Linked DNA regions of Homo sapiens: region 2 is linked to region 1. The links come from fine-mapping of genetic effects on gene expression. Tissue or cell type: whole blood. Region 1 holds a variant in brackets; the other region holds the start of a gene. All regions are shown on one strand. Distances are from middle to middle.

Region 1 (9,873 bases):
TACTAACGTGGATCAGATCACTGAAATAAATCATGCTAAGAAAGCTGGGCATGTAACGGTGTGTAGAGAGCACTGCCATCTGTGATCACACATATGTGTGCACACGTGTGCACTTGATTATGAAGAGGCGATATGTCTGGATGGAACGCAAAACAAACAGTCCAAGCAATCACCTGGAGTGGGTGTTAGGGCCTGGAGGTCAGGGCTGGGGGTGCCTCCTCACCACATTCCCTTTTGCACCTTTTACATTTAGCGCCTGGACACAGGTGACTGAGGGACAAGAACTAAGACAAGGGACTTTACAATAAAACCAGAAAAATAAAGGAGGGTTGTAAAGGGCATTGTTCAGAAAGGATGCCAAAGGAACTCCCTCACTAAAGGGGCTTCTGCTGCTCATCATGCTGTGCAGGGGAAGAGGTCCAAGGTCGGCCTTGGGCTGTCAACCTTGTTCCCCACTTAAGAGATCACAGGACTACAGTGAAATCAGTAATCTTGACCAGAAAGCTGTCCCAAATAAAATGACAATTTGCTTTTTTCCTCAAAATAAGTAAGTGGATGTTCCCCTTAAATGTACAACCATCCCACAGTGAAAGAGCCGAGGCCTTGTGGAATGACGACACTGTCTGCAGATGAGCTCTCTGGCCCATGACAGCTCCAGCTGCATCTCCCAAGGCTCTGCTGCGCACCCACCTTTCCTCCCTGTGCGCCAGCAGGCTTCGGCCTAGGCCACTTTTCCCCCTTAGTCTACTTGCTCTGACCCCTGCCCCTCCCCTCCTGAAGACTGCATCTGGCGTCAGCAGTCTGTCTCTCCCACAATTGTCAGGTTCATTGCCATATTTCTGGCACCCAGCATGCACTAAATGCCTGCTGAGGGAATGAATGAACAACCAAGGTGATTATGACTGGCCTCTGCTCTCCGTTCTGGGGAAGTTTTGATTCTACCAAAATCAGAGGCCCAGAAGTGAGGTTTAAAAGAGATTTAGGGACTCCCCTTCTCTCACCCTGGGAAGCCAGAGGCCAAAAGGGAAAACTCGCAGCAGAGGGGCATTGTTCTGTGAGGGTCTGAGTTTCCCATCTCTTCCAAAGTAGGAAATTTTGTCCTAAAATGTTTCCTCAGATTTTCTCATGTCTATGCCACAGAGTAGTCAGCAATTATGTATGACATAATGAGGACACACCAGGGACCAGGCAGTCCTGCCAGCATCCTAGGCAGGGATGCTAATAGGTGCTGCCATTTTATTGGCCTAGACTGGGACTGTGGGGTCAGAGAGACCAGAGCTCCAGTGGCTGGACTTGGTTGTTCTAGAACCCGTGCCCCAAGCCTGATCCTGTCCTGCCTCTGTGAGCACTCTGATGGAACAGCAGCCCAGCTTTGCTTCCTTGTAGCACTCATCACTACACTTGGTACAGCTTCCATCTACTTATTCAGCTCTTGTCTTACAGCTCCTAGAAAGTAAGTAAGCAGCAGGAGAACACGGGTTTTGCTTTGTGCATTCTCACGGTAAATAGACAGTGAGCAAATACTTTGCGAGGCTGAGGCAGGTGGATCACCCGAGGTCAGCAGTTCAAGACCAGCCTGGCCAACATGGTGAAGCCTGGTCTCTACTAAAAATACAAAAATTAGCTGGGCGTGGTGGCGCATGCCTGTAATCCCAGCTACTCAGGAGGCTGAGGCAGGAGAATCACTTGAACCCGGGGGCGGAGGTTGCAGTGAGCTGAGATCGCGCCACTGCACTCCAGCCTGGGTGACAGAGTGAGACTCTGCCTGCAACAAAACAAACAAAAAAAGAAACAAGCAGATGTGGCCTGGGAGTAGGCCTAGCAGTGGTCTGAATAGCATTAAAATTCCTAGGATTTACCACCTCAGTAACTTTACCAAATGCTTCTAGAATCAGGAAAAGAGGGAAACAACCATTTCTTAAGCTCCTCCTTTGTAGTAGGCACACCATAGCTATCAACACTATTCAATCTCGCCAGCAACCCCATAAGGCAGGTGTTGTAATTTTTTAAAACTGTGAGTAAATGGAGGTTCAGAACAAGTCACACTAGTGTCAGGTGACCTTGGCAAAAGAATCCCAGGACTGGCTGGCCATCAAGCCCAAGTTAGGCTGGCCTCTCAGGTCCTGTTTCAAAAGGTGAGAAGATAAAAAGGCAAGACTAGGAACATCTTACCTTTCACTTCTGCGAGAAATTATTGCCCCTGGATTCCAGCTAATTTGTTCACAAAAGTACCCTACTTCATTTACAGATAACAGGTCAGAGAACCTGGGTGCCCTCAAAACCCAGCCAGGGCCTAGGGGGCGGCGAGTGGAAGCTGCCTGGGTGTGTACCGCACCGATCTGGGCCCCGGTGGCTGCACAGCTTCCCTGAGCCTCAGTTTCCCTACCTGTGAGACTGGTACAGCAGATCTCACCCTAAAGAGCTGTGGGAGGGTTCGAAGAAGAAAAGTATTAACCACAGCGCCTGCTCCCTGCAGGCACATGGCGGGCCCATCTCCACCTCCCTGAACCCCCACAGCAAGCCCCGCGGGAGAGTATCACCCCCGCCAGGGAAGAGGCAACAAGAATGCAGAGCCCGGCCCGGGCGCTCTCCCGAGCTCGCGGGTCCTCCGCCGGCCAACGTTCAGGAAACAAGCCAGAAAAATGCGTGCGCTTCCCGCCTTTCTGAGCCGCCGGGCGAGGGTCCCGCAGCCCGCCGCTCACCCACAGCCGCACCGCGGATCCAGCTCCGGTCCTTGTTCCCGGGGCGGCTACCGACAACCCCTATTTCCGGGTCCAGCCGCTTCTGGCGTCCCCGCGTCCGGTGTGCCAGCGTCTGCCCTCCGGCTCCGGCGGGTCGGCGTTCTTAGGTTCCGTGGCTCGCGGATTCCGGGAGCACCCCAGGGAGTGGCACTTGCACGCCGCGGACCGCAGGGATCCCCAAGCCCTGCACCCAGATTCTTCCCCGCCACGGAGAGACAATCATGACAATTATCATTACAATGATTATGAAAACTGGCATGAAAACATTTATGCTGTTAATAATTAAAATAATAAAAATGTACCGATGTGTGTATAGCAGGCTTCTTTTCGATGCTGTAAAAAAATCTGTGGAATGAATGAATGATCTGTGTAAAATATATTTGGAAGATGAATTCTAAAATTAAGTTATTTATTTATTTATTTATTTATTTATTTTGAGACAGAGTTTTACTCTTGTCGCCCAGGCTGGAGTGCAGTGGTGTGATCTCGGCTCACTGAAACCTCCGCCTCCCAGGTTCAAGCAATTCGCCTGCCTCAGCCTCCTAAATAGCTGGGATTACAGGCGTGCGCCACCACGCCCAGCTAATTTATATGTGTATGTATATATATGTGTGTGTATACATATATATATATATTTTTTTTTTTTTTTTTGAGGCGGAGTCTCACTCTGTTGCCCAGGCTGAAGTGCAGTGGCGCAATCTCGGCTCACTGCAACCTCCGCCTCCCGGGTTCAAGCGATGATCTCGCCTCAGCCTCCCAAGTAGCTGGGACTATAGGCGCTTGCCACCACGCGGGCTAATTTTTTGTATTTTTTTAGTAGAGACGGGGCTTCACCGTGTTAGCCAGGATGGTCTCGATCTCCTGACCTCGTGATCCGCCCGCCTTGGCCTCCCAAAGATTTCTATATTTTTAGTAGAGACGGGGGTTTCACCGTGTTAACCAGGCTAGTCTTGAACTCCTGACCTTAGGTGGTCCGCCTCCCTCGGCCTCCCAAAATGCTGGGATTACAGGTGTGACTCTTCACGCTCGGCCAACTAATTTATTTGTTAGAGCATTAGGATTATGGAAGGTTTAAAATACGTTTTATGATCTTATTTTAAATAACATACACACATTGCCCTTGTTCCTTGTAGATTTTCCCAACCTGCTGTTTTTTTTTTTTTTTTTTTAAAGACAGGGTTTCACTCTGTCACCCAGGCTGGAGCGCAGTAGCGAGATCACAGCTCACTGCAGCCTCGATCTCCTGGCGTCAGGCGATGCTCTCACCTCAGCCTCCCCAGTAGCTGGGACCACAGGTGCCAGCCACCAAGCCCAGCCAATTAATTTTTTTTTTTTTGGTAGAGATGGGGTCTAGGGGGAGGGTCTCACTATGTTGCCCAGATTGGTCTCAAACTCCTGGCCTCAAGTGATCCTCCTGCCTCGGCCTCCCAAAGTGCTGGGATTACAGGGGTGAGCCACTGTCCCGGGCCCCAACCTGCCTTTATTGGAATGATCTGTGTAAAGTATATCTGGAAGATGAATTCTAAAATTAAGTTATTTATTTATCTAATTTATTTTGATAAATAATAAGTAGTCTGGATAGAGGCTCTGGAAAAAGAAAAGTTCTATAGGCAAATTAAGGTTTGGAAATGTCACAAATTATGAGTCACGGTGAGACTTCACTTTCAAAGCAGAACTCCTGATTCCAAACCCACACCTTGGTAGGTTCTTCGTCTCCAAAATGGCAACTCCATCTTCCTGGTTGCTCAGGGACAGAGCCTGGGAGCATCCTGGACCACCCACAAATCCTGCCATTACTGTCTTTACAATACAGATGCTCCTCAACTTCAGATGGAACTACATCCACATAAACCCATCTTAAGTTGAAAATATTGTGACTCGAAAGTACGTTTTTGACTTATGGTATTTTCAACTTACTATGGGCTTACCCAGATGTAGCCCCATCATGAGTCAAGAAGCGTGCAGAATGCATACTGGTTTTGTAGTTGAAAAATCCTGTAGGTGGAAATTGTCCTAAATCGAAGACTGTATATCGGAGATCCCCTCAAGTCTCCCTGCCTCCCTGCCACCACCCTGATCCGAGCTCCTCCTCTCCCTCCAGGTCTCCACCTTGCCGCCCTGCAGTGTGTTCTCCACATACCAGCCAGGGCTAAGATTGGCTCTGTTGGGTGCTACCAGTTGGCTGAAAGAGAAACCCAGAGGCCCTCAGCTCATTCCATCAATCCAGTTCCAGAGTTCATTGTATGGAGCCCTAGGAAGGACCTGAGGCCTGGGCCAGCAGGAGGCGCTGAGTGGTCAGCTCTGAAGGCCAGGGCGTCGGGAAGTGTTCTTGGTCAGAGCAGAGAAACTGCAGTTGCCTTGTGCTTTCTTCCCGGAGAGCCCTGCAGCTGACCCTCTGCCAGAGCTTTGGGTCAGGCTTTCTGACTGACCCTTAGGTTGACAAATGACCCAGATTCAGAGGAACCCTTCAACTTGGAGGTGTCTCCCTATTGGGACTCCCCCCAACCCCAGCTCCACTCTGACCAGGGAGATGGTGGCCTAGGATCGACTCAGCGAGAGGGGCCGTTCTTCTTTCCCCATGGCTGGGGAGAAACTGACTCCCCTAAAGAGTAGCAGCAGACTTGCCTGCAGAGGCCTCCTCTAAGGAGTGTGCAGAGGCCATGAGAGAAACTCAGGTGCCCAGACACCGCCATGGGACTTCAGGAAGCAGAGCCCTGGGGTGTTTCCACCATGGTCTTGACTTTTCTCCTCTTCCTTACCCTCCTCACTTACTGGGCAGGTGCCTGGTTATGGTGGATGGGATAACTGAGGGCTCCTGGACCTCTCTTCTCTCTGGTTCGGCATAGGCTGGTCCATGATTTTGATAATACTATTAATAGTTAACATCATGCAGTGCTTACTTACTCTGTTCTAGGCACTGTTCTGTTACTGACACAATCCTCATTACAACACTAGGAATTAGATATTATTATTATCCTTATTTTACACATAAAGAAGCAGGACACATAGGCCAGGCGCGGTGGCTCACGCCTGTGATCCCAGCACTTTGGGAGGCTGAGGCGGGCGGATCACCTGAGGTCGGGAGTTAGAGACCAGCCTGACCAACATGGAGAAACCCCGTCTCTACTAAAACTACAAAAAATTAGGTGGGCATGGTGGCGCACATCTGTAGTTCCAGCTACTCGGGAGGCTGAGGCAGGAGAAT[C/T]GCTTGAACCCAGGAGGCGGAGGTTGCAGTGAGCCAAGATCATGCCATTGCATTCCAGCCTGGGCAACAAAAGCAAAACTCCATCTCAAAAAAAAAAAAAAAAAAAAAAAAGAACCAGCAGGACACAATGATGGAAGTGGCAGAGCAACCTAGTTCCAGAAGCCACTTTTTTTTTTTTTGACGGGGTCTCACTCTGTTGCCCAAAGTTCTGGGATTTATGGGCATGAGCTACCGTGCACAGCCTTAAAGATTACTTTTTTTTTTTTGAGAGGAGTCTTGCTCTGTCGCCAGGCTGGAGTGCAGTGACACGATCTTGGCTCACTGCAACCTCCACCCCCTGGGTTCAAGCGATCCTCCTGCCTCAGCCTCCCGAGTAGCTGGGACTACAGGCACACACCACCAAGCCCAGCTAATTTTTTAAATTTTTAAATATTTTTTTATTTTTAGTAGAGATGGGTTTCACCATGTTGGCCAGGATGGTCTTGATTTCTTGACCTTGTGATCCACCTGCCTTGGCCTCCCAAAGTGCTGGGATTACAGGCGTGAGCCACCGCGCCTGGCCAAGATTACTTTTTGAAGTTTGAATAAAAGGGCAATGAAACCTGCGCTGAAGAACAGGAAATTGACTGGCTGTGTGCTGAGGCCATCCTTCTCCCCTGTCTGGGAGGGGGACTTCTGTCACTCTGCTGTCCCCAGAAGTGGGTGGAGCTTAAAACGTCACAGAAGCCCAAGTCATTTGCAGGGTACATGGAGAAACAGCTCTTGGCAGCCTGTCCTATGACCTGAACTCAACATGTCTTTTTTTTTTCTTTGAGACGGAGTCTCGCTCTGTCACCCAGGCTGGAATGCAATGGCGCGACCTCGGCTCACTGCAACCTCCCCTCCCGGGTTCAAGCAATTCTCCTACCTCAGCCTCCTGAGTAGCTGGGACTACAGGTGTGCGCCACCACGCCCAGTTAATTTTTTAAATTTTTAGTAGACATGGGGTTTCACCATGTTGGCCAGGTTGGTCTTAAACTCCTGACCTCGTGATCCGCCCACCTTGGCTTCCCAAAGTGCTGGGATTACAGGCGTGAGCCACCATGCCAGACATCACCATATCTTTATACTCCTTTCTTCACAAAAGAAACAACTGAAGAACAACCAGAAGGTGCCAGCATATTCTGTGAACACCAGCAAAAAACCCACGTAAATAAATGGTGGCAAAAGTGAACTCTTTACACAGGAGAAGCTACCTCCCTGCCTCGCCTAAAATGTCAAAGGATATCATAGTGACAAACATGAAGCCGATATCCATAATAAATTTTATTTTGCCCAGTGACATAAAAGGCAAGTCAGATTACTGTTGGAATGATGAATTGTGTTGATTTCAATTCTTTATAATATTTTCTTATTTTAAGAAGAAATTCTTGTAGTGGTAATTTTGGGATATGACTAAATGAATGTGCCTTTCATGTGGAAGAATAAACAAACAAGAATATTGGGCCAGGCATAATGGCTCATGCCTGGAATCCCAGCACTTTCAGAGGCCAAGGTGAGGGGATCACTTGAGGTCAGGAGTTTGAGACCAGCCTAACATAGTGAGACCCTGTCTAAAAAAAAAAAAAAAAAAAAAAGATTAGCTGGGCATGGTGGCATATGCTACTCAGGAGGCTGAAGCGAGAGGGTGGCCTGTTCCCAGGAGGTTGAGGCTACAGTGAGCTATGATTGCACCACTGCACTCCAGCCTGGATGACAGAGTGAGACCTTGCCTTAAAAAAAAAGTCAAGGAGGATGAGGAGAGAATGGGGAGATAAAAATGTTACCAGCTAGTACAAAGCCACAGGAGCCCAAGACAGGCCCATGAGATAGATGGAAATGAGAGAAGGAACATCTCTGAGAGCTCGCCGCAATAGCCATGTTGGAAAACATCTGTCCACTCATATCTTCCTTTATTCTCACACTCATCCAGTATTTTTTGGGTACCTACTAATTTCCAGGCATTGTGGATACGATGGTGAATGAAACGGAAAAAAAGTCTGCTCTCTTGGGCCTTACTTTCTAGTGATCTGTGATAATTATCTCAGAAAATGTATATCAAACACACAGCACAGTGTATGACAGTCAACAGTCAAGGGCTGGCCACCACTACTTTGATAATCATGTTGGTTTCATGTTTGCAGTGACCAAGAGTCAGGGGTTAACTGAAAGACCCAAACACGTATCCATTACTCAGATAACTTTCTCTGTGCTCCAAGCTGACTTTGCCAAATAGTACAAGCAACACCCCTAATGCTGCAGGGTGCACAGTGTCTCTGTAGTGATGGCGTGAGTGGTTTCTGGGGGTGCAGGCGCCACCTGCTTCCTCGGTTGTTTCTGGGGAGCTGGCACATGCTGCCTTTGTGTGTGGAAGTGGGTGTGGTGCAGGCCGAGGCAGGAGGATGCTTTGGAAGCAGGGAATATCTGGGAAAGCAGTTGATCTGGCCCTGGCCCAGAGATCCCTACCCACCACAGTCCTGCTTCTACAGGGCAACAGCAGGCAACCCATTCTTTTCCTCTAATCCTACTGAAATGTTTGGCTTTCTCCCTCCCTCCCTTCTTTTTCCACTCTCCCTCTCCTCTTTCCTGCATTTCCTCTCTTGACTGAGGCCTGCGTGGGGCTTGCTGGTGCATCGTGCACCTACTGCTTCTTCCTAGGGATCCCCTGGAGATGACTGTCCACTCACCACCAAGATGGGGAAGGACTTATTGAAAAAGACCCACATGACCACCACTCTCCCGAAGATTTTCCATGGATCATTTCCCTGAATGCTCCCACCAAGCCTCCCAGCCAGGTTCCTCTGACCACTCTACTTTGCTATGGGAACTCAGAAGTGTCCCTTCTTTTCCAAGAGGGTTTACTAGATGCCAGGCACTGTTCTCAGCATGTAACCCTTCTAAATAAGTAACTTATTCAACACACACGTAATGGTGTGAGGTAAGGACTATGATTAACTTTGTGATTCAAAATTCTTAAATTCATAGATGAAGAAACTGAGGCACAAAATAGTGGATGCAAATCACAGTCAGCTCTCCTAACCCCAACCCAGAGGTTGAGTTTTGACCCTCGGCCTGGACTGCAGGAAACCTTCAAGCAAGCTCTCAAGTGGGTGCAGCAGGAGGAAGGTCTTATGATCTTGGGGAAATTTGGTCCAGATACTTCCAGGAGCAAGCATCCTCCCATATCTGACTAAAGAGCAATACTGACTCAGGCAAGAAGAAAGTGAGTGGTCAGGGTAAGGAGGAAAGCGAGGCTGAGGTCATGGCAGCACCTGTGCCCTGACACTGCTGGAAAGACATGTCACCAGAAGGTACCTACAGGAAGCAATGGGATTTCATTCATGCAATCTGATCTTACGCTCTGATAGTGTCATGTGGAGCAGCTGCAGTTACATGCCTGCGTGGCTGCATCGGAGAGAGGCGCATTGTGTGGATCAGAGGCAATTAGCCAGTCAGGGTTTGGGGAGGCATCTGATTTTTTCAGCACAGCAAGGAACGGCACAGTACATCGAGCCCCCAGTGCATTTCTCGGTATCTCGATCTTCCTCTACTTGCGCTTTTCTGTTCCTCTGCCTGGAGGTTTTGCCTCCATTCTAGTCTCTGCTCTAACACAGACCTTGTGTGTACTTTATCGCAAACAGTTCCCTTTCCACCCCTCAGCAGCGGGCCCCACTCCCTTTGTTTTGCCCTTTCTCAATCTGAAGACGTGTCATTTACCTGCCAGCTTGCTTATCTGCATGGAGCCCATGCTCCACTAGGGCACGAACTTGGAGTTATTTCTGCTGCATCCTCTGCCCTTGCAAAAGTACCTGTCACCTGGGAGGCACTTAGCAAGTACTTGTTACCTAAATGGACAATGTGAAAAATCACCATGCTCCACTCGCAGGCCAGGCTGCTGGAGATGACTGT
Region 2 (9,873 bases), 32 kb before region 1:
AGGTTCTGGGGATAGACTAAATTTATTGCTATGGTTCACATTTACTCACAAGTAGGAGTAAATTTAATGCAACCCAGGTTACAGAAGGCAAGCAGGTAAAAGGATAAAGAACATAAAACAACTGGCAAGGCGCTGTGGCTCAGGTCTATATCTCAGCGCTTGGGGAGGGTGAGGCAGGAGGAGTGCTTGAGGCCAGGAGTTCAAGACCAGCCTGGGCAGTGAGATCGCCACCCCCCCCCCACCCCCCATCTCTACCAAAAAAGAAAAAAAAAGAACATAAAGCAAAAAAGGAAAAATCACTTTGAGAGCAGGAGGGACACTGACATTCAAACGACAAAGGGAAGACTGTGAGCTGGAGAAATGAGCAGAGGCTGGGAGCCCTAGTAGGTCAATGAGGAGGCGGCACGTCCTGCCAGCCATGCCCCAGCAGAGCTGTAAGGCATTCGAAGATGGCGTGAATTTCCCAGCAAGCTTGGCTGCCCTCAAGCAGTGCAAGCGGCCAAGGGCCCCTCTTCTGCCTGGGACTGCCCTGGCCCCTGGAGCTTCTGGGAGAATGTGAACGATGCAGAGCTGCCCCCAGCAACTGCCAGTGCCTGGGGCCTCCTCCCACTCCCTTGCAATTCCAAGTGATCTGGAGGCTCTACTGTCTCACCACAAAATGTGCTCATGTGAATTTATGATTAGGATCCAAGTGAGAGGACAGCATGCTCCCCGCTAGAGCACACAGAGGGCCCCCCTGGAGAAACCCCTGCCCACAGTGTAAAGCCCCACTGTCAAGGGCAGAATTCAAGACCCTTCACTTCCACCCCATTTGCTGGTGACGTCTGCTGGACCTTTTGGGATGCAGGTGCCTCCTTCTTGCCTCCTGACCTTGGGGTACTCTTTCCTGTGCCGTGAGCCCCTCCCCACAATCGGCCTGTTCCCTCAGGGAGGGTGGCTCCTCCTGTCTGCACTACAGACCCTGATTCACTGTGGCCACCTGCCTGCTCTCTCTGTGCCTTGTGCCCACTATCTGCACATGCCTCAATGGTGTCTGTGCCATGTGTACTAAGTAAGGTCTGGGGGGTGTGATGATGTGTGTGTGTGAAGCTCTGTCTGCATCTGTAGAGGGGACAGGCTGGCTTACTCTCAGGGCCTGTGCCAACTGCCTGCTCTTGTTACAAAGGCAGGGTGCCCAGGGCCATCTTACTTGCTGGGGACCAAGCACCCTTGTTTCTGCATCACCAACCTAAGGCAAGGGGTGAGGAGAGAAACCAGGACACAGCTTTCTCTCCCTGGAGCCCAGATGTCGAAAGGGACAGGAATCATTTCCTTCCTTTTCCCAATAAGCTCCTGAATCTGACGTACACCATGGCACACCCGGCAGGAAGGAGAAATTCCTCACCAAGGGAAACCAGAGGCAGCCCTGGGAGTGCCTGGAGGGGCAGGGGACAGTGCTGTGGTTCTTTGAGGGATCAACTGGAAGAGACAGCATCAGGAATGGCATGGAGGCCAGCGGCAAGCCGCAGGGAGTAGGGAGAGCTGGGAGAGCACCAGAGGCAGCGGAGCCTGGTGCTGGGCTTTCCTGAGCAGGGCACACCAGTGAAAAACTCCGAATAAGAGGGACGTGTGCATGAGCCTGTGCAAATCACCAAGAGCCCGGGGTGGGCATGGGAGGGACATTGGACTCCTGCATCCCAGCACCGCCTGCCTGGACCAGTCTGACCAAATGCGACTGGCAGCTGGTTCCTCCTGGATCAGGGCCCCACTGCACACCAAATGGGTGCTCACCCTCCTAGAACCTATTTAAGGTCCCACATAGGTGAGAAATGGCAAAGCAAACTCATCGGGGGGCAGCTGCAGGGGTGTGGCTGACGGTGCTGCCAGCTGCCATCCGCCCCTGCTCTGAGCACTCTTCCTGGGATGGCTTTTAGCCTCCCAACAACCTCTTGTGGTTATCCCCACTTCACAGGGCAGGCTGTAGCAGAAGAGCTAAGGAACTTGCCCAAAGTCCCAGGGTGGGGTTCATGCTGGGGAACCTGGGCCTTAACTGTGATGACACCTGGGAAGTCATTCTGACTCCTTCTATCCCTGACCTGTCCCTCATTGGCCACCAGCTCTGGGCTTTGGCTCTCTCATGGCTCCTCCTTCCATTTCTGTGTACCCCCCACCCTAGGGCAGCCCCTCCCCTCCTTGTTTTGTGGTGCCCTCCTTCCATTTTGCCTCCCGAGATCTCTCAGATCCTTTGAGGCTTTGCTGAAATCTCCCCATCTTTGGATCCAGCATGCTCTCTTTCATGTCTCTATGGCACTTTTGCTCACATCTGACTTGTAAAAAGTTTTTTTTTTTTTAATTTAAAATATTTATTTTCCTCTAGTGCATTAGTTTTGACTCCTAAGCTTAACGAATGCAGGGTTTAACAACTGCAGTTTTTTAGGGGACATAGAAAAAATACTTGTTGAGTCTTGCTTAACTGCAGAACCAAGGTAATGAAAAAAACCCAGCAATCCTTAGAAAAGGGAACTGCACCACTATAGTGTAACAAAAGCATCATTCATGTTAACTGTTTTTTTTTGTTTTTGTTTTTTTTGAGACAGAGTCTTGCTCTGTCACCCAGGCCGGAGTGCAGTGGCGCAATCTTGGCTCACGGCAACCTCCGCCTCTCAGGTTCAAGTGATTCTCCTGCCTAAGCCTCCCTAGTAGCTGGGATTACAGGCACCCACAACCACGCCTGGCTAATTTTTTTGTATTTTTAGTAGAGATGGGGTTTCACCATGTTGGCCAGGCTGGTCTCGAACTCCTGACCTCAGGTGATCTGCCCGCCTCAGCCTCCCAAAGTGCTGTGATTACAGGTATGAGACACCACGCCTGGCCAACCTTTTTCTACCAAAAGAGATTCTTATTTCTTTATTCATAACTACTAATACTAATAATAGTTAGATGTAAATCCTAGATTTTTTTTCTACATATATAAATTTTTTTTATTGTTGTAAAATATACACACTATGTATCCTTTTAACCATTTCTAAGCGTACAGTTCCATGGCATTAAGCATAGTCACATTGCTGTGCAATGACCATTTCTTTCTACAGGCCTGACTTTCTTGATAGACTGTAAGCTCCCTGTAGTCAGGGAGCCCACGATGGCCCTTTGTGTACAGCAGGTGGTAAGTGTGATGGCAGAGGGAAGAGTGACTGGCGGGTGGCATGGGCTGAGGAAGCTACACCACTCTGAAGGGTGCAGTGGGCAGCAGCGCCAGGTCTTAAAAGACTCGGTTGGCTTCAGGTCAGATGGTATCCTTTTTTTTTTTTTTTTTTTTTTTGAGAGGGAGTTTCGCTCTTGTTGCCCAGGCTGGAGTGCAATGGTGGGATCTCAGCTCACTGCAACCTTCGCCTCCCAGGTTCAAGCAATTCTCCTGCCTCAGCCTCCTGAGTAGCTAGGATTACAGGCACCTGCCACCACGCGCGGCTAATTTTTGTATTTTTAGTAGAGATGGGATTTTGCCATGCTGGTCTGGAACTCTTGACCTCAGGTGATATGCCTGCCTCGGCCTCCCAAAGTGCTGGGATTACAGGTATGAGCCACCGCGCCCGGCCTTCAGGGGGTATCTTAAAGGAATTCCACAAATGAACTTGTGTAGAGGTTCATGGCTTTCAGAAATGCATTCGTTTTGTTTACCTCTCACAACTACGCTGAGAAGTACATACTGTCAGGCTACACTGCAGATGAAGAAATAGGTTATAGGAGGGCAAGCACCCATTTAAGGTCTCACACAGGTGAAAGGGCAAAGCGAACTCAATCAAGGTCTCTGGATGCCCAATGCCTTTGGTATTTCCACCTCGCGTGCAGGAGGAAAAGAGCGAAATTTGACAACAGAAGAGACTGGAGATGGCCTCAGAGTGCTGGCCGGCCCCACTTTCTATCCCCCGTGGTGAGAGCTCAGCTGGGCCCAGAGAACTTGTCCCGGGGAATGCCACCACGACATGTGTGACTCTGTCCCGCAGGGTGGAAGGCTTCGAAGGAGCCCGCCACCATGCAGTGGGCCTCACTGTGTGTCAAGCGCTGTGCCGAAATCCCTGCAGCCGGAGCCAGTTCTTCCTGTTGTACAGACAGGTTCAGGGGCTTGCCTGACCGAACCCAGCGGCAATGTGCCCGGCCTCCGCGCCTGAGGCTCTGGCTCACAGACCTGTGGCTGAAGCAGCTGCAGCCCGAGCACTTGTGCAGCTGACGCTCGCTTCACGGACGCTTGGGAGGCCGCGGAGCCGGGGGCCATCAGGCAGACTGGGCCCCTGAAGGTGCAGGGACTGGGGGGATATGGGGCAACGTGCCGGCCCAGAGGCTCCTGGGGGGTGGGGAGAGGCCAAATCTCGGAAAATGGGGCGCGTCCCCCTCAGCACCCGATTCTGCCTCATAGCCCTCGGTCCCTACCAGGCCCTCGGCTCGGCCACACCCCCGCCTGCCCCCCAGTTCTGCCCCCTTGGCTCCCCAGCCCCCCAACTCCCAGCCTCGGGTTCCTCATGTCCGCAGCGGCCCCTCTTGCTCCTCGGCCCCCCGCACTGCACCCCCGCACCCTTTCGGTGCACCCATGTGAGCCTCGTCTCGGCCTCCTTGCCTCCCCAGCCCTCTGATTCCACCCCTCCGGTTCCTCGGTCCCATTTCACCCCTGTGCGCCTTGGGCGCTCGCCTGACCCTCGTCCCAGCCCCGTCAGCCCTCTAATCCCGTCCCCCCCGGCCTCCTCACCCCTGGTCTCCGCGGGCCTCAGCTGTCTCCTCGCGGCTCCGTGTCCCGCAAGCTGCTGCCGGCCGGCCCCGCCCACTTCCCGTCCCTGGCCGCCGCGGGCGCCGCGGGCGCCGCGCAGGCGCAGTCGGGCCTCCAGGCTGGCGGGGCCGGACCTCTGCTGCCCCCTGGCGGCTACGTGGACGGTGACTGCGGCCCTTTAGTGGTAGGCGAACTGCGGCTCCACCTGGGCTCCGGAGCCGCCCCAGTCACCAGCCTCTTGCTTCTCTTCTGCAGCTTTGGGTGGGCGGCTGGATGGGGAAAGCAATCCCTAGGTCACAGCGCCCAGAAATTAAGCAACTTCTGCCGTCAATAGCTGGTAAGTGACAGAGCAGGGATGCAAACCCAGACTGCCCAGGCAGGCTCATCCGTCCGGGAAGGAGGCACAGTCCCAGGCTCATTATGAGTTGTTTGTTTCCACAAACGTTGAGGCTTTTGTTATCTTTCCGTTCTGGAGGTCAGAAGTCCACTTAGCCTCAGTGGGCGAAGATCCAGGGATCGCCAGAATGCGTTCCTTTCTGAGGATTCTAGGGGAGAAACTGTTCCCCTGCCTTTTCCAGCTCCTAAGGGCTCCCTGCATACCTTGGCTCGTGGCCCCTTCCTACAGCCTCGAAGCCAGCAATGGCCAGTTGAGCCTTTCTCACACTGCCACCTCTGGTTCCCTCCTCTGCTTCCTTCTGCTACTTCTAAAGACCCTCCTGATGCCATTGGGCCCACCCAGATAGTCCAGCATCATCTCTCTAAATCAGTTGATTAGCAACCTTAATTCCCCTTTGCCCCTTATTATTATTATTATTTTTTTTTGACACGGAGTCTCACCCTGTCACCCAGGCTGTACTGCAGTGGCATGACCTCGACTCACTGCAACCTCTGCCTCCCTGGTTCAAGCGATTTTCCTGCCTCAGCCTCCCGAGTAGCTGGGACTGCAGGCACGCACCACCATGCCCGGCTAATTTTTTTTGTATTTTTAGTAGAGATGGGGTTTCACCATGTTGGTCAGGCTGGTCTCAAACTCCTGACCTCAAATGATCTGCCTGCCTCGGCCTCCCAAAGTGCTGGGATTACAGTACAGGCGTGAGCCACTATGCCGGGTCTGCCATGTAATCTAACACAGGCACAGGTATAGGACATGAACATCTCTGAAGGGCCATTTTTCTGCCAACACAGAGGCTCTTGAAAATATTCTTTTTCTCTCTTTTTAGAGACAAGCTCCTTCTCTGGTGCCCACACTGGAGTGCAGTGGCATGATCACAGCTCACTGCAGCCTCAAACTCCTGGGCTCAAGTGACCCTCCCCTCCTGCCTCAGCCTTCCTAGTGTCTGGGAACACAGGCAAGCACCACCACGCCCAGCTGATTAAAAAAAATTTGTAGAGACAGGGTCTCTATGTTGCCCAGGCTGGTCTTGAACTCTTGGGCTCAAGTGATCCTCCTGCCTCAGCCTTCCCAAGTGCTGGGATTATAGGTGTGAACCATTACACCTGGCCAAAATATTTTATTTTAAAGGCAGAAGAAAGAAACCTTTATGTCAAAGAAAATGTTTTAATATATGATATTAATATATTCACCTTTATACCAATGCCGTTGGAAAGTATAATTTTTTAAATGGAGGATGGGGCACCAGATCTTATGTGGCTCTGCCCACCTGACCTTCAGGTCCGCAGGCCTGTGTCCTTGCCAGGAATGAATGTCTCTGGGATGCTTCTCTAACAGGAGGAACCTGGAGTGAGACCAGGAACCTGGAGAACTAGCAGCTGGGTGACTGGAAAGGAAACCATCTGGGGTGGGGTTGGGTCTGCAAGGCAGGAGGTGTCTGGGCAGAGAAAGCAGGGCTGGGGCGGAGGGTCCTGCCTCATCCCATTCTCCTGCTCACTCTTTCCTAGATCCCTGTCAGGGCAGTAACCATGAGCAAGGCTTGAGGCTACTTCTTATAAACAGTGGCCCTGGGCACATTCCTTAGCTCACCTGAGCCTCAGTTTCTTGATGAGAAAAAATCGGGACAATAGCAACCAACCTATCTCAGAGGGCTGCTGTGAGACCCTGAGCCACTGTTTCTCAAACTGCCCCTGAGATCACCTACAACAGAATGGCTGTAGGGTGAAGTTTGAGAACCGCAGTACAGGTGAGGTGGTGCGTGGGGCAGGCCCTCCCACACTGTAAAGTGCAGTGTGGTGCGGTAAAAGCTGATATTCCCGCAGGCATCCTCAGAGTGGGCCCAATTAGACTCTTGAGCACTGATTCCATTCAAGGTCTGCGGCTTAGAGAGGATGGCAAAGTGAGGCACCACCAGGAGCTTGTCCCTATGGGCTCCAGGCCAAGGACGTGCCTGGAGATGACTCCTGCCTTGTGGCGCTGTCACTGCCTCACTGTCCACATTCCATCACGCCTCAGATCCTGGCTTCCACCCTGGTGAAAGGAATCTTTCAATATCACCCACCCAGCCACAGACGCTTCTCTGCTTCTCTGGCAAGGCTGCACCCCTGGCTAGGTGGGCAGGGCCAGGGGCTCCTTGAGACAGTCTGCAGCCACTGACCTCTCCAGCCTCCAGGGCAGAGGTACAGTCCCATGGAGCGTGGCTGATCTGAAGGCAGTTCTGGCCTAAAAGGGGTCTTGTCCCTTCCTTGTCCTCATTGCTCCCAAGGCCAGGTTGGCAGCAGTAGCAGCGGGGTTGGATGCTATTGGATGGGAGAAGGTGAATGGACTCGGAGTGCAGAATCAAGCTGCGGAAGCCAAGGGCCTTGAAGGAGGGTCACACACAAGGGACAACTGCAGAGGAAAATAAAGGAACACTTTGTGATTAGCCCTGCCTGTGGCTGAAAGCGCAGTGCAGAAGCATAGTAAGGAAGGACTGGGTGGTCTGGGTTTAAGACCTAGGAACCGTCTCTGCTCCTCCAAGCCTGAATGAGCCCTATAACCTAAGGGTCCTGGAGGTCTTGAAACCTTCTGCGGAGAAGGCTCCAGGTCCACTGGGCCCTGTGGGTGGAAGAGCAGAGTCACAGCCCCGCACTGGGGACCTAACAGGTGTGGCCTTGCTAGGGCCCCAGAATGGGACCAGAGTGGGTGGGAGGGGGCAGAAGCTCTGAGAGCACCCCCTCCTTCCTGAAGCCTGTGCTTCTGAGACACATCCCAGGACCCTCTATGTGGTTCCCCATGTCTCTGTATTTTCATTCAGCTTCGAGTAGCTCTCCAAACTGTGTTCCAGGGAACCCCCGTGTTAACCTGTGAGGGCCTCCAGGAAGGGGGTCCAGGGGGGGTATGCTTGGTGGGCTCTGGGTTTCCTTACAGGAGCTCTCATATAAGTCCTGGTGCAGCCTGGGAATCTACTACTGAGTTGGGGCGGGGGCGGGTCTGAGTCCGAAACATTCCTGACCTGCCCCTCAAAGAAAGGTCCCACTGAACAGTCTGGAAAGCTGTTTTGCTGAGCTCCCGTCATCACTCAATGAGGCACGGGCGGAGTGTGGAGGGAGTTTCCAACACACAGTGGATCCCGCACAGGTGTCTCTCCTCGGGTGGCTGGGGAGGGGAGCACAAGAAGGCACTGAGGTCAGAGGGCAGCTGCCACCAGCACCTGGCACCACACGGCAGTCTGGCCTACAGGGTATTTTCTAAACCTGGCATGTGAATGGGTTCCATGGGGCACCCAGCTGCCTCTAAGACCATAAGGGCTTGTTGTGAGAATGGGAATTGCAGCAGGTCCTGGGAAGCTGCCAGACGCACACGGGCACCATGTACAGGGCTTCTCAGAGATGGGAGCAGGGAGCAGGGGACGGAGAAGTGTGGGGTCAAGAGCGTGGCCCTGAGCAGGGGGCTGCAGCGAAGACCAAGGGGATTCATAAGCCAGATCCGGGGAGGGGGTCTCCCAGCCCCACCTGCTCCACTAGACTCCTCTCCTGCCGGAGCCACAGCTGTCAAGGCCGCCTTCCTTAAGGCATCAGGGCCACTGCTTGTGCACACAGCTACCATCAGCAGCACGGATTGAGATGGGGTGTGAGTGCAAACTGGGTCTATTCCCCAGGGCTTCAGGGTTGGGGCATCCCTGCCCGTACTGCCAGGGTGTAGGGATAGCAGGGAGCACTCTGGGCACGTGTATGCAGGCTGAAGGGAGACGTATTGGGTTTCGGAGAGGGAGAGAGGGCCCCACAGGTGCCCAGGGACACGGTAACGCTCTGACATCGCTGCACCAGCAAAGGGGCCCCAGCTCTGGATAAGATAAAATGCATTTTAATAGTTTGAAGTGCCATGAGGTGTCTGCATGGCACTGCAGCCTGGGTGAGGGAGGACAGGGTCATCATACAAAGTAGGCGGCCAGGGCTGACATCTTGTCCTTGGGCCGTCTGGGGTTGGGCTTCCCAGGGGGCCTCCTGGCCCGGCCCCGCCCTCGACCCTGCCTTCTCCCTGGTCCACCGCGGTGCATGGGGTGGCAGGAGGCCGCATGCTTCAGCTCCACCAGCTCCTGGAAGACGGGGTCACAAAAGACGCAGCCCATGTGCTGCGTCTCATCGCCCGGGAGTGGGGACTTGGCCTTGTTGAAGTCCACATCAAGCAAGGCGGCCTCACAGACACTGCAGGTGTCGGCGGACACCCGCACGCGGTGGGCGTTCTCGAAGCAGTGCGCTACCACGTTGCACTTGTTGCAGGCCACCTTCCACTTGGGGCCCGAGGTGGGGTCCAGCACCAGCACCCCGCTCTCACATTCCACGCACTGGCCGATGCCCAGCATGCTCAGCGAGTGCTGGCAGGAGGGGTGCGTACACTCGTTGCAGCCCATGCCTGGCGGGAGAAGGGAGCCCTGTAAAGGCACGCCCACTGTGCCCACCTGCCCTCTGCTGCCTGCTCCCAATGCCTCAAGCTCCTGGATCCCTCGTCCCAGCAGAAGGAACTCTTCTTGGCCTTGCTCTTGGGGACAGCCTTGCTCATGTTTCGGCTCCTGGCTGCCATTACCCCTGTTTTCTGCTTACCTGAAACCTCCTCAACTTTCAAGGCCCCTCGCTGGCACCATCCCAGTGGGTTTCAGCTGACTCCATCCCCCCTTTGCTTTGCTGCCAGCTTGTTACTGGTAATGCCACATGACCCTCATGTCACTGGGCCACATGGAACCACCCTGTCAGCTACTCTGGCG

What was found. PIP is the estimated chance that this variant, and not a neighbour inherited with it, causes the effect.
Region 2: it holds the start of PPM1F, and the variant in region 1 is fine-mapped to the expression of PPM1F in whole blood (TOPMed, PIP above 0.99).

What each region holds. Positions count from the first base shown.
Region 1 is chr22:21,980,028-21,989,900 of GRCh38, forward strand. TOP3B (DNA topoisomerase III beta) reads right to left here and starts at 2,760. Exons shown (of 18, transcript NM_001282112.2): 1 at 2,703-2,760. RefSeq lists enhancers at 2,161-3,147, 2,645-2,939. The variant C/T (reference allele first, on the strand shown) is at 5,947.
Region 2 is chr22:21,948,072-21,957,944 of GRCh38, forward strand. It overlaps PPM1F (protein phosphatase, Mg2+/Mn2+ dependent 1F), which reads right to left and starts at 4,777. Exons shown (of 8, transcript NM_014634.4): 1 at 4,721-4,777. TOP3B (DNA topoisomerase III beta) reads right to left here. Exons shown (of 18, transcript NM_001282112.2): 18 at 8,954-9,524. The coding sequence ends at 9,043. RefSeq lists enhancers at 3,930-3,999, 4,046-4,566 and a silencer at 4,560-4,969.